3 linked regions of the Homo sapiens genome follow. The protein of the gene in region 3 purifies or fractionates together with the protein of the main gene of each other region. This does not show direct contact. Each region holds a gene or a part of one and is shown on either strand. Other genes may lie near its edges. The genes, in order: FKBP14, AADAT and SPACA3.

Region 1 (11,174 bases), on a different chromosome or scaffold from region 3:
TTTTAGTAGAGATAGGGTTTCTCCGTGTTGGTCAGGCTGGTCTCGAACTCCCAACCTCAGGTGATCCGCCCGCCTCAGCCTCCCAAAGTGCTGGGATTACAGGCATGAGCCACCATGCCTGGCTATTAACCTTGTTTCTAACTTCAGCATTGCACATCTCCTTAGTAAAGCAGTAGCCATTAACAAGTCAGGTCCAACAACCATTTTCCTCTGGTCCTCAAGCAGAGACTCAGAGCCAGTTACACATAAACTATTTCATTATAACATGAAAATAGCAAGCCTTGGGCTATTGCAAAAGGCTTTTCAAATGTTGACCTCTAACTTGGAGAAAATAGAGGGAAGCAGAAATATAGGGTGCTAATTTGTGCTATAACCTGGTCTCATGTCGTGGTATATTCCCAGTTGCAACATTTTAAATTTATAAGTGAGAAAGTAAAACAAAGCTTCATATCTGTGAAAGTGAAAAATTGTCCAGAAGTCTTCTATTCAAAGACCAATTAGCTTTTTCTTCCCAATAACTTATCAGAAAGAAATGGGTACTTAGAAACCTAAGGGGTTCTTTAAATAGGAGTCAGAAAAAATATATAAAAATAAAAAACAAAGCAAGAAAGAACATTGTATAAAAATAAAATGTTCTTTAAAGATGACTGCCCTCTCTTGAAAGATGAGTGCTATATTAAAAGGGTAGATGTATCTCTATAACTCATCGTGTTTATATGTAAATTCTCTGGCAGATATAAACCCATCTTTGTCTTCATCTTCTTTATCAAAAATATCCTCCACCAAAGCATCATGATGACTTTCATTCACCACCGCACCATGTTTTTCAAACTCCTTCTTTAAATATGCTTTAACCTACAAAATAACAGATCCCATTAATAACTTGGATTCATAAGATACCCACATTGAGCCAATCAATATCACAGACATGGACTGTTATTATATTTAGTTCATTAACTAAATATAATACCTTCTAAACAGCCATTTTATGACATAGTTTTAATGATAATTAAAAAATAATAGAAACTTTTTCCCTTAAAAAAACTGTTGCTAAACTGCTAAAGTGGAGACACAAAATATTGCTCAAAGGCAGGGCCAGGTGTGGTGGCTCATGCCTGTTATCCCAGCACTTTGGGAGGCCCAAGTGGGAAGATTGCTTGAGGTCAGGAGTTGGAGATCAGCCTGGCCGACATAATGAAAGCCCATCTCCACTAAAAATACAAAAAAAAGTTAGCCAGGCATGATGGCATGCGTCTGTAATCCCAGCTATTCAGGAGGCTGAGGCAGTTGAATCGCTTGAACCTGGAAGGCAGAGGTTGCAGTGAATCGAGATTGCGCTGCTGCCCTCCAGCCTGGGCAACAGAGTGAGACTCTGTCAAAAAAATAAAAAATTAAAAAATTAAAAATATATATATATATATAGCTCTCTCTATATATATATTGCTCAAAGGCAGAGATAAAGCTTATGTCATGTATACAATCCTCATATAGGGCTTATATTATTGGAGAATACCCAATGAGAGCATACTACTTGTTCTTAATCTGAATCTAAATACTAGGCATTTCTTTTCTTTTTTTAGACAGAATCTTTTTTTTTTTTTTTTTGAGACGGAGTCTCACTCTGTTGCCCAGGCTGGAGTGCAGTGGCGCAATCTCGGCTCACTGCAAGCTCCGCCTCCCGGGTTCACGCCATTCTCCTGCCTCAGCCTCCCGAGTAGCTGGGACTACAGGCGCCCGCCACCACGCCCAGCTAATTTTTTGTATTTTTAGTAGAGACGGCGTTTCACCGTGTTAGCCAGGATGGTCTCGATCTCCTGACCTCGTGATCTGCCCGCCTCGGCCTCCCAAAGTGCTGGGATTACAGGCGTGAGCCACCGCGCCCGGCCTTTTAGACAGAATCTTGCTCTGTCACCCAGGCTGGAGTGCAGTGGCACCATCTCAGCTCACTGCAACCTCTGCCTCCCAGGCTCAAGCAATCCTCCTACCTCAGCCTCACACGTACCTGGGACTTACAGGCATGTGCTACCACATCTGGCTTTTATATTTTTTGTAGAGATGGGGTTTCACCATGTTGCCCAGGCTGGTCTTGAACTCCTGGGCTCAAGCAATCTAAACCCCTCAGCCTCCCAAAGTGCTGGGATTAGAAGCATGAGCCACTGCACCCCATGGACACTTCTCTTAAAACTAGATTAAATAGTGGCATCTTTGACTTGAATAAATGTCTGCAAGTAGTGGGTCTTTTGGGTTTTGGTTATGATCATGTGATTAGATTGAGTCTAATCACAACCTTTCAATCTCAGAAAGTCAGGTCTGATAAGTGCCTAGACTACAATTTTCCATTTTCATTTGTTTTTTTGTTTTTCTTTTTTTTTTGAAATAGAGTCTTGCTCTGTCACGCAGGCTGGAGTATAGTGGCACGATCTCGGCCCACTACAACTTCCAACTCCCAGGTTCAAGCGATTCACCTGCCTCAGACTCCCTAGTAGCTGGGATTACAGGCACCTGCCACCATGCCTGGCTAATTTTTGTATTTTTAGTAGAGACAGGGTTTCACCAAGTTGGCCAGGCTGGCCTCGAACTCCTGACCTCAGAAGATTTGCCTGCCTTGGCCTCCCAAAGTGCTGGGATTACAGGTGTGAGCCACCATGCCCGGACTCCATTTTCATTTCATTCAGATATTTAAAAATATAAATATTGTTTTCAATTTCCCACAAGATTCACCACAATGAAAATCAGCCTATATTTTCAGTTTTAATTATATCACCTCTCTTCCTTCTGTTTAGACCAGCAATTTCAAATCCTCTCTCCCCCAGCTTTCAAGAAGTACACATATAGTATATATTTATTTTTAAGTTAAAGTGATTTAATGCAGTTGTTAAAAAAAGGGGTGGGGGAGAGATCCATTAATCCATTAAACTCTATGGATTAATGTAGAATGTATTTCTAGGATATATTGTGTGAATAAAGCAAAACGACAAAACAGCATGTATAGTTTGCTTCTTTTTGTGTAAGAAAGGGGGAAATAAGACTATGTATTTGGATTTGCAGAAAGAAACACTGAAAGGATATATTAGAAACTAATAAAACTAAGCCGGGTGCAATGGTGCATGCTTGTACATAGCGAGACCTCATCTCTACAAAAAAAAAAACAGAAAGAAAGAAAAAAGTAATTAATAAAACTGGATGTGGGGATAATAGAATAGAAGAGGATGTAGGTAGGAGAAAGACTTTTAAAAATATGTAAATAATAGGCCGGATGCGGTAGCTCACACCTGTAATCCCAGCACTTTGGGAGGCCAAGGCAGGCGGATCACAAAGTCAGGAGCTTGAAACCATCCTGGCCAACATGGTGAAACCCTGTCTCTATTAAAAATACGACAATTAGCTGGGTATGGTGGCGTGCACCTGTAGTCCCAGCTACCTGGCAGGCCGAGGCAGGAGAATCGCTTGAACCCGGGACACAGAGGCTGCAGTGAGCTGAGATCGCACCACTGCAATCCAGCCTGGCAACAGAGTGAGATTCCGTCTAAAAAAAAAAAAAACAGTAAATAATAGAGATAAAGTCTTCCTATGTTGGCCAGGTTGGTCTTGAAGTCTCAGCCTCAAGCAATCTTCCTGCCTCAGCCTTCCAAAGTGGTAGGATTACAAGTGTGAGCCACCTCACCCAGCTAAGACTTTTAAATAAATATCTTTCTGCTGGGCACAGTGGTTCACGTCTGTAATCCCAGCACTTTGGAAGGCCGAGGTGGGCAGATCACGAGGTCAGGAGTTTGAGACCAGCCTGGCCAATATGGTGAAACCCCATCTCTACTAAAAATACAAAAATCAGCCAGGCATGATGGTGCAGCTACTTGGGAGGCTGAGGCAGAATTGCTTGAACCCAGGAGGCAGAGGTTGCAGTGAGCCGAGATTTTGCCACTGCACTCCAGGCTGGGCAACAGAGCAAGACTCCCTCTCAGGAAATAAATAAATAAATAAATAAATAAATAAATAAATAAATAAATAAATAGATTTTTGTTTTGAACCATGTGACTGTGTTATATATTCAAAATTATTTAATGAAAGGGAATTAAAATTTATCTTGGATGGAAGAAAAAGGCATGTGACTGGTAATACTATGAGGTGTTATAAATTTAGTGGCTGTGGATCATGAACCCCTGGTTCGTAACAATTTGGCTTATTCAAGACTTAATCATTTCCTGGCCATTAGAATGAATTTGATCAAAGCATAGAAAGGGACTTGATATCTGACCAGTCAGGACAGAATGGAGTGTGAGTAGATAAAAAACAGGAATAAATATCTCCCTCCACTTCTTTCCCCGCAGCAGCCAGACTAAGACAGGTATGTGTAGCAATGGCCGAATTATAAGGAGAAGCCTCTTCTTCCTTTCTCTTTACCCAAAGGCTCAGATTTTGATGGGGCTGGAGCCCTGCTGTGTAAAACCCAGGCTGGGGTCTCTTTTCTCTGGGGCAACCTGAACAAAACAGAGCATGTAAGTTGCTTGCTGTTAATTGCCAGGAAAACACTACAAGATGTATTTAACAGCCAGTCTACAGTTTTAACAGAAACTGTCCACATGAGATATTTCTCAGGACAGCTAGCTTCTTATACAGTAACTCCAGATGGAAACTGTCTTGGCAAAATTGTTCTTTCAAAGACCCAAGGGTAAGCATAAGATACAGTGAACCCTAAGCATTGGGAAGAAAAAAGCAAAAGATTGAATGGTGCTTTTTAAGTCTTAATATATTTCTCTCCAAAACAGTGATTCACTATGAAAAAGTCCACTTTCAAAGCATCAGTATTTTAAGAAAACTTATAAATAAATGTTACCTAAATAAAAGTAGATTTGAAATATACACATATTCATTTAAAAAGTGAGTTACAAAAACAAAACAAAACAAAACCCCAAACAACCAAAGAAAAGTAGAAAGAGGAGTAGGAAGAAGGAAAGGTCACCTCATCTTTAGAGAGTTTCCAGTCATCATTAAGATCCATTTCTTGGAATGATTCATGGGATCTTGGTCCATTTCGAATCTCCAGGAGATCAATATTAAATATCAGTGTACTTTCTGGGGGAATTTTACCTGACGTGAGGAAAGAAGGCAGAAAGTTTTAAAAGAGCCAAAAGTTTTAATAATAGAAAATTTATGGTAATGGACAAAGTATTTTTTTTAACTGAATTAAAGAGCCTTCCTAAGATTGTCATATATGATGAAAATTATGTATATTATATTTTACTCGAATAGAATAGAGTAAAAGAAGAAATAATATACACTAGCAGAGCAAAAGCATTCTATCTTTGGCTTAGCAATTAAAATGTAAATACACATACACACAATGCATATACATACATAGAGATGTACCTAATGGCTTAGGTATTACATTTCTAATATAATTAATATATTACATATTATATGTCAAGAAGGACTTGAAGGGTTTTAGATAATTCGGAGTTAAGTATATTAAAAGTAATAAACTAACTTTTTGGTCAGAAAGTCCTGACCTAGAAATACATACAGTATTGCCATTTCTACCACTAGAAGGCATTTCTACCCATATAATTGAGTAAGCTCTGGTGTCACACTGTCTGAGGCTGAAGTTTACATTTGCCCATCTCTAAGCCTCAATTTCCTCATCTATAAAATGCAGATAATAAATTTCCTCCTCAGGAGTCTGTTGGGAGGATAAAGGGAGAAAAATCCATGCAAAATACTTAGCATTAAACTTGACAAATAGTAAACTCTCAATACATGTTATTGAGGTATAATTTTCTCACAGGCTTTAAAAATAATGCAGGAAGGTTTAACAATTTCAGAAAGTTAGGAAACACTACCTCTGATATAGAACATTATATATATGTTGAAGACATTTCATGGGAGGGGAGAAATTAAAATGAATTTCTGAGAAGGGAAATTAAAAATCTTTAAAAGTGAAAAGAGCTTTGTTAAAATCCCAGGAACCTGAAACAAACAAACAAACAAACAAACACACCCATCTGTGGAGTATGGACAATTGTTTTTCTCAAACTTGTTTCCTTATAACTATATTTAACATACAGGTCTGTGTAAACATGTTAAATATTTCTTAGTCATCCTCCCCCCATCCCACATATTTCCATGAAAGAACATTCATAAATTCCAAAGAGAAGACTTATAAAGTGTGCTGAAGCTTACCATTTCAGATCTAGACAGAGATGTGACATGCGCTAGGTTGTTGATAAAACTGGTATCTTTCCAAAAGAGGCATGCAAGCATGTACTAAAAGACTACAAAATTAGTGTTAAATACAGATTAGAAAAATTAGTTTCATGGCATTCAGTTTGAAGGAAATGACTCAAATTTAGATCTCTACTTATTGTGAAGTAAACTTGAGTTAAATATAGTATGAGAAAGAGTAATGGACTAATACAACGTACAGTAGTCCCCACTGGGATATGTCCCAAGAATCCCATTAGATGCCTGAAACCATGGATAGTACCAAACCCCATACATACAATGCTTTTTCCTATACATGCATATCTGTGATAAAGTTTAATTTATAAAATAGTCATAGTAACAGATTAAAAATAATAAAATAGAACAATTACAACAACATATCATAATAAAAGTTATATGAATGCAATCTGTCTCTCATTCTCAAAATACCTTAATATTTTCAGACTGCAGTTGACCACAGGTAACTAAAACGGTAGAAAGTGAAACCACAGGTAAAGGGGAACTACTGTATGTAAATATTAAAGGTGAGACAATAAAGATAAAATGAAAACATTCTCAGCATCAGAAAAAATTTTCTAGATACTTGGTTTTCTTCTCTAAAGAGGATTATGACTAAAAGAAGAATTGAATTTGGTTAGTTAATCTTATCCTATGAACAAGATTTGTATAGATTTGTATATTTTGGAATATATAATGCTTGCCATATGGCATCTATTTTCCTTCTCAGGAAATGGGCTGTGAATCCTGACTCCTCACTTTTGTCAGTGGTTAACCTTAGACTTCAGGATGCTATGAAGTCTATATTTATACTATATCAGAGTAGTTGTCTGTCTGGTTCTGATGACTACTTAAACTTTTTTTTCTTCATTATGTAAGTAATACATGCTCATTGTAGAGCACATACTTGGATGATAAAACCAGAAATAAATATGATTCCCAGTATCACAGTCCATTTTTAACATTCTTATTTATTTCCTTATGATTAACTTTCTATGTATATGTACCTTTTCCTATATTTACTATCATATATACTATAGGTTTATTTTCTACTTTTATATATAATACTGTATCTCATGCATTTCAGATATAATTTTTAAACTCTTTGGAAATGCCATTTTAAATAACTGGGCCATATTTTATTTAGCTAAATTCTTACCAGTATACCACTTACGACAGTTCCAATTTTTTGCTTAGAAACAATGCAATTATGGACATCCCTGTTCACAAATTTTTTTCCTGATATCTAATTATTCCCTTAGGTTTGAAGGAATTATAGAATAAATGCATATAGACATCTTCAGACCTCTTTTTTTTTTTTTGAGATGGAGTTTGGCTCTGTCCCCCAGGCTGGAGTATAGTGGCACGTTCTTGGCTCATTGCAACCTCTGCCTCACATGTTCAAGCAATTCTCCTGCCTCAGCCTCCTAAGTAACTGGGATTATAGGTGCACTCCACTACGTTCAGCTAATTTTGTATTTTTAGTAGAGACAGGGTTTCACCATGTTGGCCACGTCGGTCTCAAACTCCTGACCTCAAGTGATCCACCCTCCTTGGCCTCCCAAAGTGCTGGGATTACAGGTGTGAGCCACCATGCCTGGCCCAGACCTCTTGATATATATCACAAAGCAGCTCTTTGGAAAGTTGCAGGGGTTCTCACTTGAACAGCAGGATATGTGTCTGCCCTGAAAAACTAGTACAAAAGCTGTCCGGACCAGCTAGCCAGCTTGCTTCTGCTTTGTGACACAGGGAGAATTAAATTCATTTCATGTCACTCTATGATTTTTTTTAAATACATTGTTAAAAACTTTATAAATAAATTTAAAAACGGGAATGAAAAGAACTCCCAGTTTGCTGTGGGAGACTTAATATTCATGAAGTACAACCCATATATAACCCACATCTAAAATGCATTCAATACTTTAATAATCTATATTTCACATGTTCAACTCATCCAAACACTTACGTTAATGGATCTTTCTCTCTGCATTGTTAAAGTAAATTGGTGAGTTTCAGTTTGGGAAGATGAGAACATTCTGAAGATGGATAGTGGTGATGGTTCCACAATAACATGAATGTATTTAATGCCACTGAACTGTGTACTTAAAAATGGTTCAAATGAAAAATTTTATGTATATTTTATCACAATTAAAACAACCCACCATATTTGTGAACAGTATTAATAGACCTCAATGTTCTTTTTTTATTGTTAGCATAGTTGCCCATTTAGACATTACGGCCTTAAACTGGCCATTTCAATTGATACTCAAGACATAATACAGTTGCTAAAGGAATACATACCCCCTATTAACTTCCAGGGGAAAAAAAAAAGTTATAGTGACTCTAACTTCTGTCTCCTAATCCAGAGAACAACTCTAGTGCTATAGTAAGAAAAATACAGAAATACTATTACCTTTTCCTTCTTTTCCATAGCCCAGAGCAGGAGGAATGATGAGCTTTCTCTTCTCTCCTACACACATTCCTTTCAAGCCCTGGTCCCAACCTTTGAGAGCCTCCAGGATGCCCAGGGTAAACCAAATGGGCTGACCATTGTTATGTTTGTGACTATGATAGAAATAAAACACATTAGAACTCCTTATTAACTCTAAAAAATTTTCTTTAGTGCATTTTCCCACCAGTAAGTGGTTAAGTTTATTAGTTTAAAAATTTATAAATACAGCAATTCTGTATTTGCACACATACACACACACCTCCAAGTCAAGTTTATAGGAATTCAATTCACTGCCCATCTTTCTTGATGCAAATTTCACATACTTGACTGGGCTTAAGAAAGACAGAGGAAATAATAAAAACAACAACCATTTGAACATTTGTTGTATACCAGGAATTATTCTAAATTTTATTTTATTTTTTGCCTCTTAACCCTTACAATAAGTCTATAATATAAGTACCATTACTACCCCATTGCACAGATGAGGAAACACAGGTTAAGTTCCAGTCTTTAAACCTAACTCCAAAGTTCAAGGTCTTAATCACAAAGTTATGTTGTCCCAGGAAGGCCACTAGGTTGCAGAACAAGGAGAAAATAATGGAAAAATGGCTGAGTTTGGGAAGGAGATTGAAAGGCTAAGGAGAATTTACTGCCAACATATGTGGGTCCATATGCACACAGATATGAAGAGTGAGAAGCACAGTGTCTTATATCCTGCCTACAAACTTGCCTTAGCTATGGCCTGCTGATGGCTCTGACGGGTAGAAAAGGCTGCTTTTCATCCCTAAATCCCCACTCAGACCCTAGCCCAGTTTCCTCCTCAGGGGTCTACAGTGGGGCTATATAGGAAAGTCTGGAAGAGTAGCCCCTCAAGGACTGGTGTGTTAGTCCATTTTCATACTGCTATGAAGAAATATTCAAGACTGGGTAACTTATAAAGAAAAGGAGGTTTAATGGACTCGCGGTTCCACATGGCTGGGGAGGTCTCACAATCATGGCGGAAGGCAAAGGAGGAGCAAAGGCACGTCTTACATGGTAGCAGGCAAGAATGAGTGTGCAGAGGAGCTGCCTTTTATAAAACCATCAGATCTCGTGAGACTTATTTACTATCACAAGGAGAACAGCATGGGAAAAACCTGCCCTCATGATTCGATTACCTCCCACCAGGTCCCTTCCACAACATGTGGGGATTATGGTAGCTACAATTTAAGATGAGAATTGGGTGGGGCCATAGCGGAACCCTATCAACTGGGGACGAGGGAAATAGAATGTCCTGGCTCATGAGTTGAAGAGAGTCTAGCCTAGGAAAACCAACCTGCCGAACTACATACAGGGAGGCTTAAGGGCTGAGTAATGCCTGATCCCTACCTAGCTCCCTTTCAGTGCAATAAGGAAAATATTCTATTCAAGGATATCTTGTAGGTGAGAAAAAGAAGTCACTGTACTACGCTTCATGAGTACCATGGTTACTAAATCTGGGTAATGCCATTTTTTCCTGTAATTTTGCCCAATGATCAAAGTAACAAAATGCCAACTGTAGAAAATTTGGGAAGGCTAGAAATGAAAAAAGAAGCAGGAAACATTCTACTACTCATCACTGACTACAATTTTAGCACAGTTCTTCTTAGGGCTAAGCAATTTATCCCATAGGCTATGGTTCTAGAGATGGCAAACGTGCTTACAAACTGATCATTTGATGGTATTTCTTTTTCTTCAGAGCGGAGTCTCGCTCTGTTGCCCAGGCTGGAGTGCAGCGGCGCAATCTTGGCTCACTGCAGCCTCCGCCTCCTGGGTTCAAGCGATTCTCCTGCCTCAGCCTCCTGAGTAGCTGGGATTACAGGTGCCCACCACGCCCAGATAACTTTTGTATTTTTAGTAGAGACGGGGTTTCACCATGTTGGCCAGGATGGTCTCAAACTCCTGACCTCGCGATCTGCCTGCCTCGGCCTCCCAAAGTGCTGGGATTACAGGCGTGAGCCACCACGCCCAGCCAATTTGATGGTATTTCTTCATGAAGTTTACAGTTAGCAGCTTCTGACCATTTACATGGAGGCTGCATGATAACAGTCCCCTCATCAGGTATTAGAACTTAGTAGCAAACTGCTAAATAATATTCCATGGCTACCACCAAAGTCAGCACAGGTTTTTGGTTCAGAAATCTGAAAGAAGTCAGGCTGAGTCTAAAAGAGATCAGACTAAAAATAACAATATAACTGAATTTTCAAAATGCAAATCACATCATTTAATATCCACCGTGGCACTCACCTAGTTGACAAGAAGAAAGGGCTGTTGAGAATTCTAAGGCAAGCCATTTTTCTGGAACTTTTTCCCAGGGCTAACAGTTTAGAGAAGAGCCCCATTCATTTCCCCAACCCTCAAGACAGACCAGGTCTGAATGCCCAGTAAAGGCAGTTTATTAGAAAATCAGGTGGAGGATGGGCTATGAAGATTTACTGTTTTAATTCATGTTATTCCCTCTACCTACAACATCCTTCCCTACTTTCCCCCT
Region 2 (11,174 bases), on a different chromosome or scaffold from region 3:
CCTGAATAAGCAGGTTCATCTAGGAGGACATTATCTCCAGGATTAATGATCATTTCAAACACCTAACAAAAGAAGCATAGGTTAGCTTGTTAGTCAGCATAGGTTAGTACTGTTTCCATGCTCAGAAGCCCATTTTTTAGTTTGAGCTCACATGGTTCTAGAGTAAGAATTAGCAAATTGTTTATAAGGGGCCAAACAGTAAACACTTTGCGGGTCATAGTATCTCTGTTGCAACTACCCTGCAACTACTCTGCCTCTATAGTGAAAAAGTAGCCATAGACAATATATAAATGAATGGGTGTGACTGAGTTCCAATAAAACTTTATTTACAAAATTTGATGAAGGGCTGGATTTGGCTCTCAAACCATAGTTTGCCAACTCCTGTTCCAGAGAAAGGTGAACAGAGGTTTGGCTGCTAACATTCATTTATTCCTTTTATTGCTTCTTTGAAAATCTATTAAATGTTTACTATACGCCAGGCCTGTGTAAAGTGTCAGAGATAAAATAGCAAAATGACATGGTTCTTACTCTCATGGAGCTACTGGTCCACTGGGAAAGCTAGACACCAATTAAATAACTACCCAATAAATGTGCAAATTAAAAACGGTGGTGAGTGATATTAAGTACAGATGCACAATGACATAAGAGCTCATTGTAGGAAGACCTAGGCATTCAGGGAATTCAGGGAAGGCATCCTGGAGGAAGCGATGAGTTGGTGTACGGGGTAACAACAGTTAGATTTGAAAAACCAAAATAATTATGTGTCTTGAGGCAGAATGTAGAGAAAAGAGTGGTGTGACATCAGACAGAAGTGGGCAGAGACCAACCATGTAGGCATTTGAGCCAAGGGAGGCAAGTAAGGATTTTAGGAAGAGAGTGGGGAGGAGGAGTCACATGATTAGATACTCGTCTTGAAAAGATCAATCTGGCTGCAGTATGAAAGAATGAAAGAAGGGTGAGAATACATGTGGAAAGTTTAGAAAGTTTTTAGGATTGTTTGGGAAGTTACTGCCACAGGCCTGGAACAGGTAAGGGTCATCTTAAAGTAGAGTGGTGACAGAGGAATTGTAGAGAAGAACTGAGAGGTATTAGGAAATGAAAAGTAATGGAACATGATTATGGACAATAGGGAAATGAGGAAGAGGAGGTGTCAAGAATGATGCCTAGATACTTGGTTATGGAACTAGATAGATGGTGGGGGTGGTGCCATTCACTGAAACACATAACCAAAAAGCCATCCATATCTGAGTGACAGGATGATTTGTTTTAGTGTGAGGTGCCTTTGAAACACCCTGTGATGATGTCAGATGGATAGATGGACAAATGGATTTGGAAGGAGCCTGGAAGTTACTGGCATATGGTTGATCATGTGAATGTAAATGAAGATACCCAGGAAAAGTACATAGACTAAGGAGAGATGTTTAAGGACTGAGCTACAGGGAACTCCAATAAATAATGGCTGGGTAGAGGAGGACACTGCAAGGAAGGGAGGGAAAGTGGGCTGGAGGAGAACCACACAACATGCTACTGAGAGAGCTAGAGGAGGACAGTGTTTTCAAAAGGGTGGGGGAGACTTCCAGTTCCAAAATGGTGGTGTAGAAGCAAGTTGACTTCATTCCCTCCCACAAAACCACTAACAAATATACAGTGCTAAAATTTACACCAGAAACAACCCAGAACTCAAATATGAGGATGAGTCAGTTCCTAGGACTACAGAGAAGTGAAAAAACTCTGAACAGATGGTAAGAAAGGCATACTTCAGCATCTATGATACCCCTCCTCCCAATTCTGCCTGGCACCAAGCACGTGGAAAAACTCCCCCTAATTCACGGCTTCTACACTGGAAAAAGTGAGATTGAGGTGGCCAAGAGTTTTCCCCACCATCTTTGGTTCCCTGGCTGGAGACCTGTCCTTGCCTTTAACCCTTTGGAAGCATCATGACTGCCTGGAGGGAAAAACATCCCTGAGGACAGGCAGAGACAAAATCGGGAGGCAGGACTACCATCCCAAGCCCTGGAAACTCTGCACTGTAACTCAGCGAAAGGCATGCCAAAACAGAGTGACTGTTCAGCAGCACCACACTGCAGGAGGAATGTTCCAGAGGTTCCTGGGTATAATTCTTTTGCTAGCCATCTCATGCCAATGGAATAAATCCTTTGGGACCTCCCTGATTTGGGACAGGCTGTTCTCGAATTATTTACTAAACCTGGACTTAAGGTGCCACCTTGGAAGATGCCAACAAGGAAGCAGTGACCCAACAATAGAGATTTACTAAGCAAATATATCCAATAAAAAGCAAAGCAAGCCAGACAAATCAAACAAACAAACAAAACTAGAATAAATAACTAATCCTTTAATGCAAAAAACTGATGTATACATACAAGAAACAATAGCCAACAGGAAACCATGACCTCCCCAAAATGACAAAGCAAAAATCCAGTGACTGATCCTAACAAGATGGCAATTTGTCAGCTTTTTGACCAAAAATTCAAAATAGCAGTTTTAAGAAAACTCAGTGATCTTCAAGGTAACTCAGAACAGCAATTCAGAAATTTATCAGAGACATTTAACAAAGAGATTGAAATAATAAAAATAACAAAAAACCCCAGAAATTTTGGAACTGAGAAATACTGAACTCAGAATTGTTGAACTGAGGAACTCATTAGAGGCTCTCATCATCAAAATGGACCCAGCAGAAGGAAAAATAGGTAAGCTTGAAGATTGGCTACGTGAAAATACAGTCGGGGAAAAAAGAAAAAAGAACAAAGAGTGCCTACGAAATACAGAAAATTACCCCAAAAGACTAAATCTAAGAATCAGTGGTCTGCAAGAGGAAGGTGAGCAAAAGCAAGCAGTACAAAGCTTATTTAAAGAAATAATAACAGAAAAGTTTCTAAACGTGAGAGAGATAAATATCCAGGCCACAGAAGAAGGTCTGAGAACATCAAACAGATTCAATCCAAATAAAACTACCTCAAGGCATATAAGAATTAAACTCTCAAAGGCTAAGGACAAAGAGAAGATATGAGAAGCAACAAGACAAAAGAAGAAAATAATACATACATGAGCTCTAATTTGTCTGGCAACAGACATCTCAATGGAACTGTACAGGTCAGGAAAAAGAGAAATGACATTTTCAAAGTGCCCAAAGAAAAAAGCTGCTATCTAAGAATATACATATATTTTTATTGATTGATTGACTGAGATGGGGCCTCGCTATGTTAACCAGGCTGGGCTCGAACTCCTGGCCTCAAGCAATCTTCCCATCTCAGCCTCCCAAAGAGCTGGGATTACAGGCGTGAGCTACCATTCCCGGCCCATCCAAAAATATTGTACACTTGATCTTAGCCAAAAGGCCGAGAAGCGATCATCCAAGAATATTGTATCCAGCAAAATTATCCTTCAAATATGATGGAGAGATAAAGTCTTTCCCAGACAAACTAAAGCCGAGAGAATTTACCACCACCAGATCCATCTTACGAGAAATGCTAAAGGGAGTTCTCCAACCTGAAAGAAAAAAATACTAATGTGCAAAAGAAAACTTTTCAAGGTAAAAAATACAGTGGTAAAATTAAGTACATGGACAAACCCAGAATACTCTATGATTGTAATTATGGTGTGCAATCCACTCATAATTCTCATATGAAGCCTAAACGACAAATTGATCAAAAACAATAATAGCTACAGCAACATGTTAAGATAGGTAATATGTAAATTGAGACATCTCAAGCCAAAATGTGGGGGGAATGGAGTTAAAGAATAGAGGATTTTTTTATGTTTTTTGCATTTGTTTGCTTCTCCAAGATAAGTTGATCCAAGATAAGTTGTTACCTCTTTAAAATAACTTGTTATAAGATTTTTTTTTTGTAAGCCTCATGGTAACCACAGTACAAAAACTTATTATTGATTCACTAAAAATAAAGAGCAACAAATTATAAAATACTACCAGAGAAAATCACTTAACCACAAAGGAAGACAGTAAGAAAGGAAGAAAAGAAGAGAGGAGTCTCAAAACAACCAGAACACAAGCAACAAAATGCCAGTAGTAAGTTCTAACTTATCAATAATAACACTGAATGGAAATGGTCTACATTCTCCCATTAAAAGGCATGGAGTGGCTGAGTGGATAAAGAAACAAGACCCAATCATATGCAGCTTACAAGAAACCCACCTCACCTATAAAGACACACAGTCTGAAAATGAGGAGGTGGAAAAACATATTCCATGGAATTGGAAACCTAAAAAGAGTAGGTGTAGCTACACTTAGAAAAAATAGACTACAAACCTAAGATTGTAAAAAGAAACAAAGAAGGTCACTATATAATGATAAAGGGGTCAATTCAGCAAGATAATACAACCTCCCAAGTATACAAATATTAGTAAATTTAAAGGGAGAGATGGAATGTAATACAATAATAGTAGGAGACTTTTTAACATTTCACTTAGTAATGAACAGATTATCCAGACAGAAAATCAACATGAAGAAACAGTGAGATAAAACTACATACTAGATCTAATAGACCTAGTAGACAGTTACAAAAATATTCAACCAACTGCTGCAGCATATACTTTCTTTTCATCAGCACAATGAAGAGTCTGCAGAACAGACCATACCTTAGGCTATAAAACAAGTCTGAACAAATAAAAAAACCCAAATCTTATCAAATATCTTTCCTGACCACAATAATAAAACTAGAAATCAATAACAAGAGGAACTTTATAAAATATGCAAACACACGAAAATTAAACAACGTGCTCCTGAATGGGTCAATGAAAAATTCAGAAGGAAATTAAAAGTTTTACTGAGATAAATGAAAATGGAAACGCAATATACTAAAATTTGTGGAAGACAGCAAAAACAGTACTAAGAGGAAAGTTTATAGCAATAAACGCCTGTTTCAAGAAAGTAGAAAGACTTCAAATTAACAACCTAATAATGCACTTCAAGGAACTAGAACAACCTACAGGAGAGGAGAAAATATTTGCGAACTACCCATCTGACAAGGGATTAACAAGTCAATAGCAAAACCCCCAAATAATCCCATTAAAAATTGGGCAAAAGATCTTAACAGACATTTCTAAAAGAAGACATAAAAACGGCCAAAAGGCATTAAAAAAGTTCAATATTACCAATGCAATCAGAAAAACCTCAAAACCACAATGAGATATTACCTAACCATATTCAAAATGGCTAGTTTCAAAACGACAAGTGATAACAGATGCTGATGAGGGTAGAGAAAGGGGAACCTTTATACACTTTAATGGAAATGTAAATTGGTACAGCCACTATGGAGAACAGTACAGAGGTTCCTCAAAAAACTGAAAATAGAACTACCATATAATCCTGCAATTCCACTGCTGAGTATATATCCAAAACAAAAACATCAATATATCAAAGAAGTATCTGCACCTCCATGTTTATTATGGCACTTATTCACAATAGCCAAAATATGGAACCAACCTAAGTGTCCATCAGCTGATGAATGGATAAGGAAAATGTGGTATACACACAATGGAATATTATTCAACCATAAAAAAGGAATAAAATCCTGTCATTTGCAGCAACATGGATAGAAATGGAGGTCATTATGTTAAGTGAAATAAGCCAAGTATAGAAACACAAATATTGCATGTTCTCCCTCATCTGTGGGAGCTAAAAAAGTGGATCTCATAAGGATAGAGAGTAGATTGGTGGTTACCAGAGGCTGGAAAGGACAGGAGGGAGATAGGGTGAAGGAAAAATAAAGAATATAAATGTACTTATTACCACTGAACTGTATACTTAAAAATGGCAAGGATAGCAAATCTTATATGTGTATTTTATGGCAACAGAAAAAATTAAAAATTAATTTTTTAAAATAAAATGGATGGGGAGATCAACGGAGTTAAAGAATATTTCTAGGTCAAGTAATAAAAGGTTTGACAATCTTTGTAAATTATGTGGATAATATGATTTCTACTACAATCACTAGAGCCAGGCAATAGATTTTTCCAGCCTAAATCAAAGGGGTCTATTATGACTAAATCATACATAAGTCACAGAATAATTGCTTCTTAACTTGTGATGTTTCACAATCCCCAGTTTGAGTCCTTTTTCCTATCACTTTAACAACCCACATCTCACCACAAACAGTAGGGCCATTATCAATTGAGATAGAAGATTTGACTTTTGTTCCCCAACTGACCTGTGATGTTGAATTTACCTTTTCCTTATGAGCTTTTGGCATCTTATGACAAACAGTATCCTCCTCCGAAAAGTTTCTAATTGACTTAAGCTTTACAAGACATCCTAGGACCAAAGGAATCACTTGGGTGGCAGCACGTACATATCAACAGATCAAATGAAAACCTAATTAGCGTTGATCCTTGAACAACATAGATTTGAACTGCACAGGTTCACTTACACGCACAGTTTCTTCTGCCTCTGCCTCCCGTGAGACAGCAAGACCAACCCCTCCTCTTCCTCCTTCTCCTCAGCCTAAGCAACATGAAGATGAGGATGAAGACCTATATGATGATCCACTTCCACTTAATGGTAAATATATTTTCTCTTGCTCATGACTTTCTAATACCATTTTATTTTCTCTAGTTTACTTTATTGTAAAAATATAGTGTACAATACATATAAAATATAAAATATGTGTTAATTGACTATATTATCAGTAAGGCTTCTGGTCAAGAGTAGCCTATTGGTAGTTATGTTTTGGAGGAGTCAAAAGTTATATGCAGATTTTCAACTGCATGGAGTCATTGCCCTTAAACCCCTGCGTTGTTCAAGGGTCAACTGTAAATATATTTTTCATATCAGTTAGGGGACATACAAATTTCAAATATCCTAAATTAGAAGGGAAGGCTGTTTATCATCTGGGAGCACTGTTTAAAAGATGAGAGAGAAACACAGGAGTCTAAAATAACATGACTCCTGGAGAACAAAGTGGAAGAAATATTAAACCAGATACATATTAGTGCCCCTATAATAAGCATGTCTGTAAGTAGTAAGTTATTGACGTATTTAGCAATCTATGCTATCTTCCTTTTTTGTGTAACTGGTGTTGTGATGGATAAAGAAGAAACTGTCTTGAGCAACTTTCTGGAAGAAAAAGTCCATAGTATCCTTTCTTGAGGAAAGAATTTATTTCATTAAAAAATACTCTTATATCATTCTATACAATCACAAATGTTTCTCTTCAAGCAAAGACTCAAACACTAGCTAATTCTTTTACTTTTCCTAATTAAATACAAAAAGGGTAAGTTTTTTTAATTTTTAAAAACTTTAAAAAATGTTTTTACTACTGTAACCCATTATTCTGTAACAATAATTTAATTAAAATTCATTAAAGCAAACCAGATTACAGTTTTCATATTTCCATGAAAAAGAAAACTACTCTGGTTTAAGATAAAGATAAATGGGAGTCATAGATTAATTTAGATCTGAGAATGAATATAGAGAATCTTATTATTCATGGAAAACAAAGGAGAAAATATACCAGCACTTTGGGAGGCCAAGGTGGACAGACTGCTTGAGCCCATGAGCTCAAGACCAGCCTGTCCAACATGGCAAAGGAATATAAAAATTAGCTAGGCATATTGGTGTGCACCCGCAGTCCCAGCTACCTGGGAGGCTAAGGTGGAAGAATTGTTGGAGCCCAGGGAGGTCGAGACTGCAGGGAGCCGTGATTGCGCCACCGCACTCCAGTCTGGGTGACAGGGTGAGACCCTGTCTCAAAAAAAAAAAAAGAAAGAAAAGAAAATAACAGATCAAACTGAGGACCACAGATGTGGTCTCTTTATTGTGGCAACTAACCAGTGGTGTTTACATCTGTGGAGTTCCCGGAACCCAGAAGGGAAGAAGATGGAATAACTAATGCCAGGGGGAGAGGGAGAGAGAACCAATCCATATAAGAAGTCAGAAATACAGACATATAAATAGATCTAGAGAAATACACCCAAGAGGGGGACAAGATACAAGCAGTGGCAAGGAGAGATTCTACAGACAGATATGTAAAAGAATATAAATATGTGTATCTCAGGAATATGAAAGCATGCCCTCTAAAAAATTTAAAAATTGTATTGAAATTTCCTAACTATAGGCGGAAATCAAACGTAACTTGAATTTTTGAGCCAGATGAAATTAAGCAGTGTTCACTAAGCTTTTGGTAGGAGTTGAGTACTCCCTTAGTGGGCATCCTGCTTTAATGGTTAATAGGTCTGGGTAATTGACCACATGCTCTGTATTTAATATTTAAGAAAGATTAGGCTAGTGAATGATGTTAAGAGCAGGTAATTTTTCAAAGTCCTTGTGTTCACAATGAGGAAAACTAGGGGGAAATATTGATAGATCAACCTACAATATTTCCACCTGGCTTTTGCTTACAGTCAACACCCCCTACCCACCCTTGCCCATCCCCGGCCACAACTGCTCCCACCCCCATCCTATGACTTGTCTTTTAGTTCCCTGTTTATAATTCTAGGTGAAGACAAGAAAGACTACCAGTAATCCATAAAATATAATTCTCTGTGGTTAAGTGCGAGAGGACTATAGAAATGAATGCTTCCAATTCTACATTTTGGCTGAGTTTTCCTTTCAGTCTTACCTTACAAAGACCTTGTTGGCTGCCAGATGTGACACATAGATCCATTTGTCCTTGACTGGGTGGGTAATGGATGGTAGGAGGATTATGCAATTTTATTTGTAACTGTTTTAGCCAGGACAAAAGCTCTGGAATTCTAAAGCAAAAAATGTATATTTAAATTCATAGTAGTAAAAATCATAGTAACAGTAGTAGACAGGAAATAATAAATGACAGCTTTATCAAGCACTTTGTACACTCAATTAAAAAACCCTCAAATGCTTTTTGCCAGTATGAATATTCCTATTTAAAAGATAGGCAGTAGACTTAGAGATTAGGAAATTCCTGTAAGTCATTCAGCCAGAAATTCTCAGAAAGTCAATTACGTAATAAATGAGCTGAGATTTGAATCTACATCTTTCTTATTCCAAACCTGAAGTCTTTAGCGCATGCGTTGCATAATCGATTCTTTGTTCTCTCTAGGAAGAGTTCTATGGCTACCTAGAAGTTCAGACTCAATAAGTTGTTTGTATCATGGAATGTTTGAATAAGCCTATGTATATTTAACATATTACATAACTAACACATATATACATGAATAACATTTCAATACACTTTTCAATCACAGAACAAAGCAGGTTTTAATAAAGTATAATTTATAGATTCTCTATAAATTATCCTTTATCACTTGAAGAAGACCAGCTAAGAAAGTCAAGGTATATGTTTCAGCTTGCCTTTAAGAAATTAAAGACATTTGAACCTATGAGGGCAATGTATTTGAATGGCTGCTTGTTTAGACTATAGAAATGAATGACTATATTCAATGTATTTGCATGACTGCTTGTTTAGACTATAGAATGAAGAAACGGAAGATCCAGGATGCTTAAACTTTAAAAAGTTGAAGCTTCCTGGATCTTCCGTTTCTTCATTTCTCCTGATATGTTTGTTTCACCTGGACATCTTCTCATTTTTTTGGACTCAGCTCTAATGGTATTTCCTTCTAGAAGCCTTCTTGGTCATTTGCGATTGAGAAGCAATCACTGAGGAGTGTTAAACATTCAATATCCTTTCTGTTCTTAATTATCCTTTGAAAACCTTTCCCCAGACCTTCCTAACCATTGAATACTCATTTGGTTAGTATTCAATGACTGAGTATTTGGTCATTGAATGACCAAATGGGTCAATGGCTTTAGAATATTTATGAATGGACCTTAGAATATTTCTTTAATATTCTTTATCAATGGGCCTTAGAATATTTCTTATGAAAATAAGCCAATAAAATTATGTTAAGTATTGATACTTACCCAGCACTCGGAGAATACTGAAGTGCTCTCTTCATCATCTCTTCTCCAAATTGGATGGTCTTTCCATTTTCTACAGTGATTACGGCAGTCTTAAAAGGAAACATGTTTGGATTTGGTAAGCCACCAGCCAAGGAGATCATCGATTTTGGTCCTCTGCTCAATATGTCAGCTACAATACACATGGAAGAGAAGAAACAATTTCATTGAAGATTGTTATAAGCGGATAGTTAAGCATGCATTATAGTCAATAAAACTATAAAGTTTAACGATTTCTAGTGATAGAGTGTGCTATGGTCTAAATGTTGGTGCTCCCCCAGATTCATACTTGGAAGTTAATACTAATGTGATAGTTTTAACAGGTGGGGTCTCTAGAGGTGATTAGGTCAGGAGGGATCCACCCTCCTGAATGGGATTGGTGCACTTATAAAAGAGGGCTGAGGGAATGCCCTTGGCCCTTCTGCCACGTGAGGACATAGGTTCTCCCTTCTACCACGTGAGGATGCAGCAAGATGGCTCTGTCTATAAGGAAGGGCTCTCACCATGGTGACACAGAAGCTGCTGGCACTTTGATCTTAGACTTCCTAGCTTCCAGAACTGTGAGAAATAATTCTATTGTTCATAAATTACCCAGTTTGTGGTATTTTGTTATAGCAGCCTGAATGGACTAAGACAAAAGCTAGTCTAAAATAAACATACAGAATAACTTTTTCTAGGCACCTCACTTGTGGAGGGACTAAAGAATGAAGGTGACCAAAGAGAAGGCAGAGGGATCAGAAAGACAGCAAAGGGCCACAATAGCAGAAGCCCTCCTCCACTTAGCCCCGACCTGTCTGTGAGCTTCATGGCCCACCCCTCTCCCATTTACCTGGCCCTCTCCACTGTACACCCATCTGCACGCTGTGCATGCCCCTTCTCAGCTTCCCAGGAAGAGCCTTTCTTGATAGCACGCCCCCTCCCTTCCAAGGCCGTGCCCCACAGCAGTCTGCGCCTCTCTCTACTGTTGCTCCTACTCTGCTCCAGCAGAAATACCCGCCTTCCGTTTCAGCCCGAGTTCTTTGAGAACAAAGGCTGTGTCTATTTCATTTCTGCACGCAGAGCCTGGCTCACCGCGAGCGTGCACAGGGGTACGCATGGATGCAACCAAGCGGTGGCTTGCTAGGGAACCCTCCTTAGAGGCTGTGCGAGGAATGCCCCACCCCAAAGGAGAGATGGTCACCCCGTTTCTCACTCATGGTCCGGATGGGAGAAGGGTTTCTGGCTGCGCTCGCTGCCGTGATGAACCGTGCGTAATTCATGTCTT
Region 3 (7,705 bases):
GACCCCTGTCTCTCATCATATACAAAAATCAATTCAAGATGGATTAAAGACTTAAATGTAAGACTCACAACTATAAAAATACTAGAAGGAAACCTAGAGAAAACTCTCCTGAACATTAGTCTAGGTAAATAATTTATGACTAAGACCTCAAAAACACAGGCAACAAAATGAAAAATAGACAAATGGGACTTAAACTAAAAAGATCCTGCACGGGAAAAGAAATAATCAACAGAATAAACAACTTGTAGAATGGGAGAAAATATTTGCAAACTATTCATTCAACAGGGGACTCATATGTAGCATATACAAAGAACTCAAACAACTCAACGACAGAAACAATCCCATTAAAAAGTGGGCAAGCCAGGCATGGTGGCTCATGCCTAAAATCCCAGCACTTTGAGAGGTCAAGGCAGGAGGATTGCTTAAGTTCCAGGGTTCGAGACCAACCTGGGCAAAAGAGTGAAACCTTGTCTCTATAAAAAAACAAAAATTAGCCAGGTGTGGTGGCATATGCCTGTAGTCTCAGCTACTCAGGAGGCTGAGGTGGGAGAATTGCTTGAGCCCAGGAGGTCAAGGCTACCATGAGCCATGATCAAACCACTGCACTCCAGCGTGGGCAACAAAGCAAGACCCTTTCTCAAAAAAAAAAAAAAAGTGGGCAAAGGACATAAATAGTCATTTTTAAAGAAGATATATAAATGGTCAACAGTTACATGAAAAATGTTCAACATCACTGATTATAGAGAAATGCAAATTTAAACCACAATGAAATATCATCTCACCCCAATCAGAATATCTGTTATTAAAAAGGCAATAAACAACAAATGTTGGTGATGATGCAGAAAAAAGGGAACTCTTATACACTGTTAGTGGGAGTGTAAATTAACATATCTGTGGAAAATAGTATGGCGATTTATCAAAGAACTAAAAGTAGAACTACCATTCAATTTAGCAATCCTTCTACTGGGTATCTACCCAGAGGAAAAGAAACCATTATGTCAAAAAGACACCTGCATTCATGTTTATCAAAGCACTATTCACAATAGCAAAGATATGGAACCAACCTAAGTGTAATGGATGAATGGAAAAAGAGAATTTGATGTATATACACAATGGCATACTATTCAGCCCTAAAAAAAGAATGAAATCATGTCTTTTGCAGCAACATGGTTGGAATTGGAGGTCATTATCTTAAGTCAAAAATGCCAGGGACAGAAAGTCAAATGTCACATGTTCTCACTCCTAAGTGGGTGTGAAAAAATGTGTACACATGGACATAAAGATTGGAATAATAGGGGCCGGGCACAGTAGCTCATGCCTGTAATCTCAGCACTTTGGGAGGCCAAGGTGGGCAAATTACACAAGGTCAGGAGTTCAAGACCCGCCTGGTCAACATGGTGAAACCCCATCTCTACTAAAAATACAAAAATTAGCCAGGTGCGGTGGTGGGCACCTATACTCAGGAAGCTGAGGCACGAGAATCTCTTGAGCCTCGGAGGCAGAAGTTGCAGTGAGCTGAAATCGCACCACTGCACTCCAGCTTGGGTGACAGAGTGAGACTCCATCTCAAAAAAAAAGGACTGGAATAATAGACAATGGAGATTCAGAACAATGCAGGGTATGAGGGGGGTGGACAATGAAAAATTACTTAATGGGGACAGTGTACATTACTCAGATGAGGGATACTTTAAAAGCCCTGTCTTGACCACTATACAATCTATATGTGTAACAGAATCACACAGGTACCCCATTAGTTGTACAAATAAAAATAAATAAAATTTTTAATTTGTCTTACAAAAAATAAATTTAAAAAAAAGAAAGATGGATGGGTCATGGGTCCCAGGCCAGATGACCATAACAACAACCCCTTGGCAAAGTACAGTGAGTAAGCGTACATGTGGAGTCACACTGAGCTGGGTGCAAATTTATCTCATCTGAGCCTCTGTTTCCCCTTGTCTGTGGAATGGTGGTCATAATGGTAGCTGCATCATAGCTATTGTTCTAGGGTCTAGATTAGATAATGCATGGCACATGGTAGGCACACCGTGTTTGCCTTGATGTTAAAAAGACAGCAGCTTCTCCCTACTTATGATTTAATAGCTCCATTAGTCATTGATGCCCCTACTGCCAGCAGGGTTCTTCACCACTCTGTCCCCTTGCATGAGTCGCTCTCAAGTTTCATCATCATCTTGACCAGACCAGCAGGGGAAGGAAACTGGCCTGACTCGCTAATTGTGGACATTCCACGCCCCTCTGGTGTATGCTGACCCGGAGGCATTCAGGGTGGCTGAATTAGGTGGAGGAGGATGGTGGGGGGCGACAGTGTCGTCCCCTCCTCTCCCTAAGAGTCACCAGCCATGCCTCAACCAACAGTTCAGTGCTTACAGGTTTCTTTGGAACCTTTTCAGAAGAATCTACAGTCTGAACTCAGGGCTCAGGCTTCTCACACATCATCCTATCTCTGCAACTGCTGCTGCTGCCACCACATCCACTGCGATCCTGAGACCCACCCACCTTCCTCCTTTAGAGGCAGTCGTCCCAGATTAGCAGGGGACCGCGCTATCTTTTTCTGGGCTTCTCGTGTGCTGACTAAGGCAGAAGGCTGCACTGGCTGTGCGGATTGAAAGCCACGGTCACTCCCGTCCCATCCTCCAAACTCCTAGCAGTAGTGGGCAAAGTGAGCGCACCGTCTCTATCAGCGGCACTTGAATCTTCCGCCACGAGAGGGCACCAGAGAGCAAGGTGAAAGCAGAAGCTCCGGGTGGTCATTCTTCTCCCGCGACCAAGCAGCACCCCCGGCTTGGCAGGGGTGTGTGTTAGTAGTCACAGCTGGAGGGCCAAAGCACAGTGACCACCATCTGCAACCAAAGCTGCAGAAAAAAAGTGTCCCAAGAACCTTCCCAATCAAGCCAGAGGTGCACAGCCCTAGATCCAGCTAGGGTTGCCAGGTAAAACATAGGACACCCAGTTAAGTTTAAATTTTAGATAAACGTCAAATAGTTTTAATATAAATATGTTCCTATGCAATATTTTGGACATGCTTAAAATTATCTGTTGTATATCCAAAGTTCAAATTAAACTGGGGCATCCTGTTTTTGTTGTTTCTTATGTATTTGTTTTGTTAAATCTGGCCACCCTAGACCCAAATTTTGCCAGGTGTGGTAGACAAAAAATGCACTGGTGCCCCCCCCAAACACCTGCCCACAGGCCACCAGAAATGGAGGTAAGCCTCTGGTGCTGGGCTTTCTGGAGTCCACTGGAAACCCAGCCCAAGCGGACAGGTGAGGTGAGGGAAAACGGAGGTGCTCTGGCTCTGACATGGCACCTGCAGACACACTGAGAGCTGAGAGCCATATTCACGTTCAACCATCCTTTATTCGCTGGCTTGTCTTCCCAAGCCTAGGTCAGGAACCAAACCACATTTCCCAGCCTGCTGTGCATGGTTCCGTCCATCCTAGAAGTCACAGCCATCCACCCATTCAGTGAGGTCTTTTCCCTGGCAGTGATGCCTCCAGGCCTCCCTGAGGATGGAGAACAGGGAAGAGGAGAGATAATATCAGCTGCAGTTGCCAGTCACCGCCCAGAGAAGAACAAGAAGGAGAGTGTGGTCTCTAAACCAGAAGTGAGGAAGGAAAGGGGTTTGTTCCCTGCTGCTGCCCACCAGTCCTAACCATACCACCGCTGCGGGGCTCCAGCCCAAGTTACTTACCAGTAACCCAGACCCTGAGGCTCTTGGGTTATCTTCATGGCACAGATAACGGTATCCTTGAGATTAGGATTCAACAAATCTGGGGTGATAGGCAGAGAAACACAATGAGAGAACAGGAGACATCCAGGTGTGTGTGTGTGTGTGTGAGTGTGTATCTGTCTGTCTCTCTCTCTCTCTCTACACACACACACACACACACACACACACACACTCCACTCGCCTAAATCCAATCCTGTCTCAACCACTCCGGAAGCACAGGTACAACCCTATCCCTCTCCCCCTCCATCAGAAACAATCCTCCCTCCATTCCTATAGCCCTAAGGCAGTCTCCTATCTGGGACCCCAATTCAGACTGATGGAAGACCTACCCTCATCCCTTGTCCCATCTCCCTCTCCTCCGTGGGCCCAGCCTGATGTGGGGGAACCCTCACTCAGAGATGGGGGTAGCAAACTAAACTGGGAATGGAACAAAAGCTAATGCAGGGCCTGACTCCTGCCAGCCCTGGGCCCAGGCCCAGCTACCTGAGCAGTACATCCGGCACACGTTGGGGACGTTCGGGGTGAGGTTGCTGCACCACCTCCGGCTGTTGATCTGGAAGATCCCGTTGTTGGTGCTCCCATCAGCCTCGTAGTCCAAAGCAGCTGCGTTGAAACCGCTTGTGAAATAAGCAAGGCAGACCCCTGCATAGGGCAGAGCATAGGCCTGGGGGTCAGATGGTTACAGCCACCCCAGACCAGGGTGCTCACTGCACAGGTCCCACGCTGGCTCCACCGAGCCTCTCCTGCCTGATCAAGGTGATTGGGGCAGGTGCCTCCCACCTGCTTTGCAAACCAATCAATCGAGGCTTAGAGGTGCACAGCGACTCACCCAGGGTCCCATCCAGCTACCAAATAGCATGGGTTGGGGCTGGCCTCAGGCCTCTTGACTTTTAGCCCAGCAGTCTTCCCATTATCTCATTGTTCAGCACATAGTAGGGCCCAATAAATTTGTTGAATGAATCTACAAGTGCTAAATCTTTTTTTTTTTTTTTTTTTGAGACGGAGTCTCACTCTGTTGCCCAGGCTGCAGTGTAGTGGCGTGATCTCAGCTCACTGCAACCTCTGCCTCCCGGGTTCAAGCAATTCTCCTGTCTCAGCCTCCCAAGCAGCTGGGATTATAGGTAGCTGCCACCATGCCCAGCTAATTTTTGTATTTTTAGTAGAGACGGGGTTTCGCCATATTGGCCTGGCTGGTCTCGAACTCCTGACCTCAGAGTGATCCACCTGCCTTGGCCTCCCAAAGTGCTGGGATTACAGGCCTGAGCCACTGCACCCAGCCTACAAGTGCTAAATCTTCAGTAACAAGATTAGGAAGACCCAGGTGGAATCTATAGAGGGTGCTCGACCTGTTAGAAAGATGAGCCCCGGTATGACTGCCCTTCCCACATGGCCATCTAAAACTGCCACCAGCTTGAAAAGTTTGGCATGACTGCTCTGTTCAGTTTGTCTTTTCTAATTTCAGAAGGAATGTCTGATCCTTGTGGCCATAGTTAAGTTTAGGGGACTGAGCTGTTTGTTTCCTTTGACCCCGACTTTAGCAGCAGGGGGAAATGAAGGGGTGACTCCAATTTGGTTGCCTGCTGCCTGCCTACTGCGTGTTTTACTCCGTGCTGGCTGTTCTCTACCTGCCATCTCAAATCATCTTCAGTTTACAGAAGGGCTCTAAAAGCTCCCGAAGCCACAGCCCTTGAATGAGAAGGAGAGAGGGAGGGAAAGAGGGAGGGAGGTGTGGGGAAGTCAGGGCCCGCCAGGGAGAGGGGTTCTCACAGTCAGCCAGGCTGTATCCCCGGTATCCGTCCAGCCCGAAGTCATGTAGCACTCTGGCCAGTTCACAACGACCGTAGAGCTTGGCCTCACTGGAGGGTAGCAGGCAGCTGAGCAGACAGACCAGGGCCAACAACATGATCCCAGCTGGGCACCACCGCCTTCTGAGAGCCCTGCTCCTGGCTTCTATGCCGGCGGCAGAGGTGGAGCCACCACCACTCTGGCTCAGAGCTGAGCTTTGGGATGACAGGCAGCTCACCAGCCTCCGTGGTCCACTCACAGAAGGAGAAGAAACAGGGCTTGAGTGCACCCCTGGGAAAGGGGAGAGGAGAGAAGGGGTGGGCAGAAGGCCAGGCTCCAGCAGCACGTATCAGCCCCCTTGCATTCCTGATCAGCATCACCCTGACCCCGAGACCAGCCCCTCTCCTTCCCCATCCTGCTTCACACCACCCAGGCCAGAGACAGGAAGAAAACTAACCTATTGTAAGCTCCATATTACACGTTACGGATTATTTAGTCCTGAGGCCCAAGATTTTATAACTAGGAAGGGGCGAAGTTTGGATGGAGACAAAGTTCTATAAATCCAAAGCCCCACTGAGCAGATGCTCCCGGAGGGGATGGCCAGGCGGTGTGTTCATGGGTCTCTCAGCCCAACTGTCAAGGGACAGCCCTTCTGGCATTGACCCTCCATCTCCAGATCTTAACTGAAACAAGGTCTCCCCCAGAACACTGCTCCCCTATAGCCCGCTCAAGGGGAAGCTGCTCTTTCTCCACACACAAGACCCCAAGATGTCCCGAGAGTCTCCTCCACCCCCACCACCACTTCTAAACCATAACCTGCAAAAAGCCCTTCTCCCTGGAAGCCCAGCCTGCCCGTCTGGTTTGACCTCCCTGCCCTGTCATCATTGGCTGTGTGTGGCCAGTCCCCCAAATCACAGAGGACATTAGCACCTGGGTGTCACAGCATCAGGGCTCCTTCATCTCCCCAGACCTAGTCCCCTCCAGTTCCTCTGTGTCTCAGCCAGTCCCTCCCCTGCCCTGGTCATCCCTGCTTCTTGTCCTCACCCGCATTTCCCCACCTCTGTGAGCTCCTATCCCACTGCCCACCACCTCTGACAAGCCTTCCCATGCTTCTCTTGACCTCTGCGCCTCCACACCTGCTCTCCACCTTCACAGAGTCAAAAAGTGAAAGAGTTGTACAAACTCTTGTTTGTGCCAATTGGTGTCCCTGGTCTCCAACCTCCACGGGACCTTGAATGCCCCCGAGGATGACAAAGTGGTTGAGGTCATGGCTTTGCAGCAAGGTTCGGGTTGGAAGCCCCCCTCTGCTCCTTGCTCCATCTCTGATTTTGGGCCCTCCCTGAGGCTTGTTTCTTCCTCTATAAAATGAGGACGTGAGTAACACCTGCCTCATATGATTGTTGGAAGAATAAATGAGAAAAGGCGTGGGCACAGCGTAGCTCTTGGCACTAAAAATAAGTGAGTTGTTGTTTCTGTTATGAACTACAACTAACACTGGTACTCGCGCTTGTCTCTGCTCAGACTTCTCTCTCCCATTTCCCTCACAGGAAATGAAAACCCTCAGTATTGTCCTTTAGCACGCCACGCTGTCCCACCCCTTGGCTCTCAGAACATGATCTCGTCTCCTGCTGCACTAAGAAAAGCAAGGTGCTCACTTGTGGAATTTCTTCCTCTTTCTGCCTTAGCCCTGCTCACTTGCAAACTCATCAGTAGCCTCCTCGCCCTCATCTCCACCCCGTCATTGTTTGGGTACGGGGCCTCCAATCTCATGCAGGCCCATCTTCCCTCTAAGCTCTAGATTTGTCCTTCCCATCACCAAGCCTTGCTCCATCCGTTGTCCCTCCTCTCCCGGCGCGCTAGCACCGTTCCCCTCCTGCTCCTCCTTCCCCTGCTCGTAGAGACTTTCTCAGTCTCCATCTTCTAAATGCCTTCCCTCAAGTCTCATGCTGACTGCTACTCCCTTGTCTCTTTCCCCCTCTTCTCGCCCAAACTCCTGGGGAAAATCGCCACTTTCTCCCTCCCGCTTGTTTTCCAACCTGGTGAATTGGCCTCCCTGCCATCACCGCGCGCTGAAACTGCTCTGCGGGTCCAAGGAGGCCCCCTTCGACTCTGTCTCATGGGAGCTCTCAGCTGTACTCATGCCGTCCGCCACCCGCTGTTGAAAGGCTTGCC

Evidence for each region.
Region 1: the proteins of SPACA3 (region 3) and FKBP14 purify together in Homo sapiens (affinity purification with mass spectrometry; 2 studies listed by BioGRID and IntAct, with this or other methods). This does not show direct contact.
Region 2: the proteins of SPACA3 (region 3) and AADAT purify together in Homo sapiens (affinity purification with mass spectrometry; 2 studies listed by BioGRID and IntAct, with this or other methods). This does not show direct contact.

What each region holds. Positions count from the first base shown.
Region 1 is NC_000007.14:30,014,039-30,025,212, forward strand, and holds part of FKBP14 (peptidyl-prolyl cis-trans isomerase FKBP14 precursor), read right to left. Parts: intron 8,779-11,174; coding exon 8,627-8,778; intron 6,267-8,626; exon of another isoform or gene 6,175-6,266; intron 5,086-6,174; coding exon 4,958-5,085; intron 856-4,957; coding exon 697-855; 3' UTR 1-696. UniProt on the Homo sapiens protein: PPIase which accelerates the folding of proteins during protein synthesis. Has a preference for substrates containing 4-hydroxylproline modifications, including type III collagen. May also target type VI and type X collagens.
Region 2 is NC_000004.12:170,078,522-170,089,695, forward strand, and holds part of AADAT (kynurenine/alpha-aminoadipate aminotransferase, mitochondrial), read right to left. Parts: coding exon of another isoform or gene 11,170-11,174; coding exon 11,103-11,169; coding exon of another isoform or gene 11,091-11,102; intron 10,044-11,090; coding exon 9,875-10,043; intron 8,728-9,874; coding exon 8,595-8,727; intron 6,473-8,594; exon of another isoform or gene 6,228-6,472; coding exon of another isoform or gene 6,204-6,227; intron 63-6,203; coding exon 1-62. UniProt on the Homo sapiens protein: Transaminase with broad substrate specificity. Has transaminase activity towards aminoadipate, kynurenine, methionine and glutamate. Shows activity also towards tryptophan, aspartate and hydroxykynurenine.
Region 3 is NC_000017.11:32,993,528-33,001,232, reverse strand, and holds the end of SPACA3 (sperm acrosome membrane-associated protein 3), read right to left. Parts: intron 5,825-7,705; coding exon 5,516-5,824; intron 4,413-5,515; coding exon of another isoform or gene 4,391-4,412; coding exon 4,232-4,390; intron 3,789-4,231; coding exon 3,710-3,788; intron 3,522-3,709; coding exon 3,455-3,521; 3' UTR 3,356-3,454; downstream 1-3,355. UniProt on the Homo sapiens protein: Sperm surface membrane protein that may be involved in sperm-egg plasma membrane adhesion and fusion during fertilization.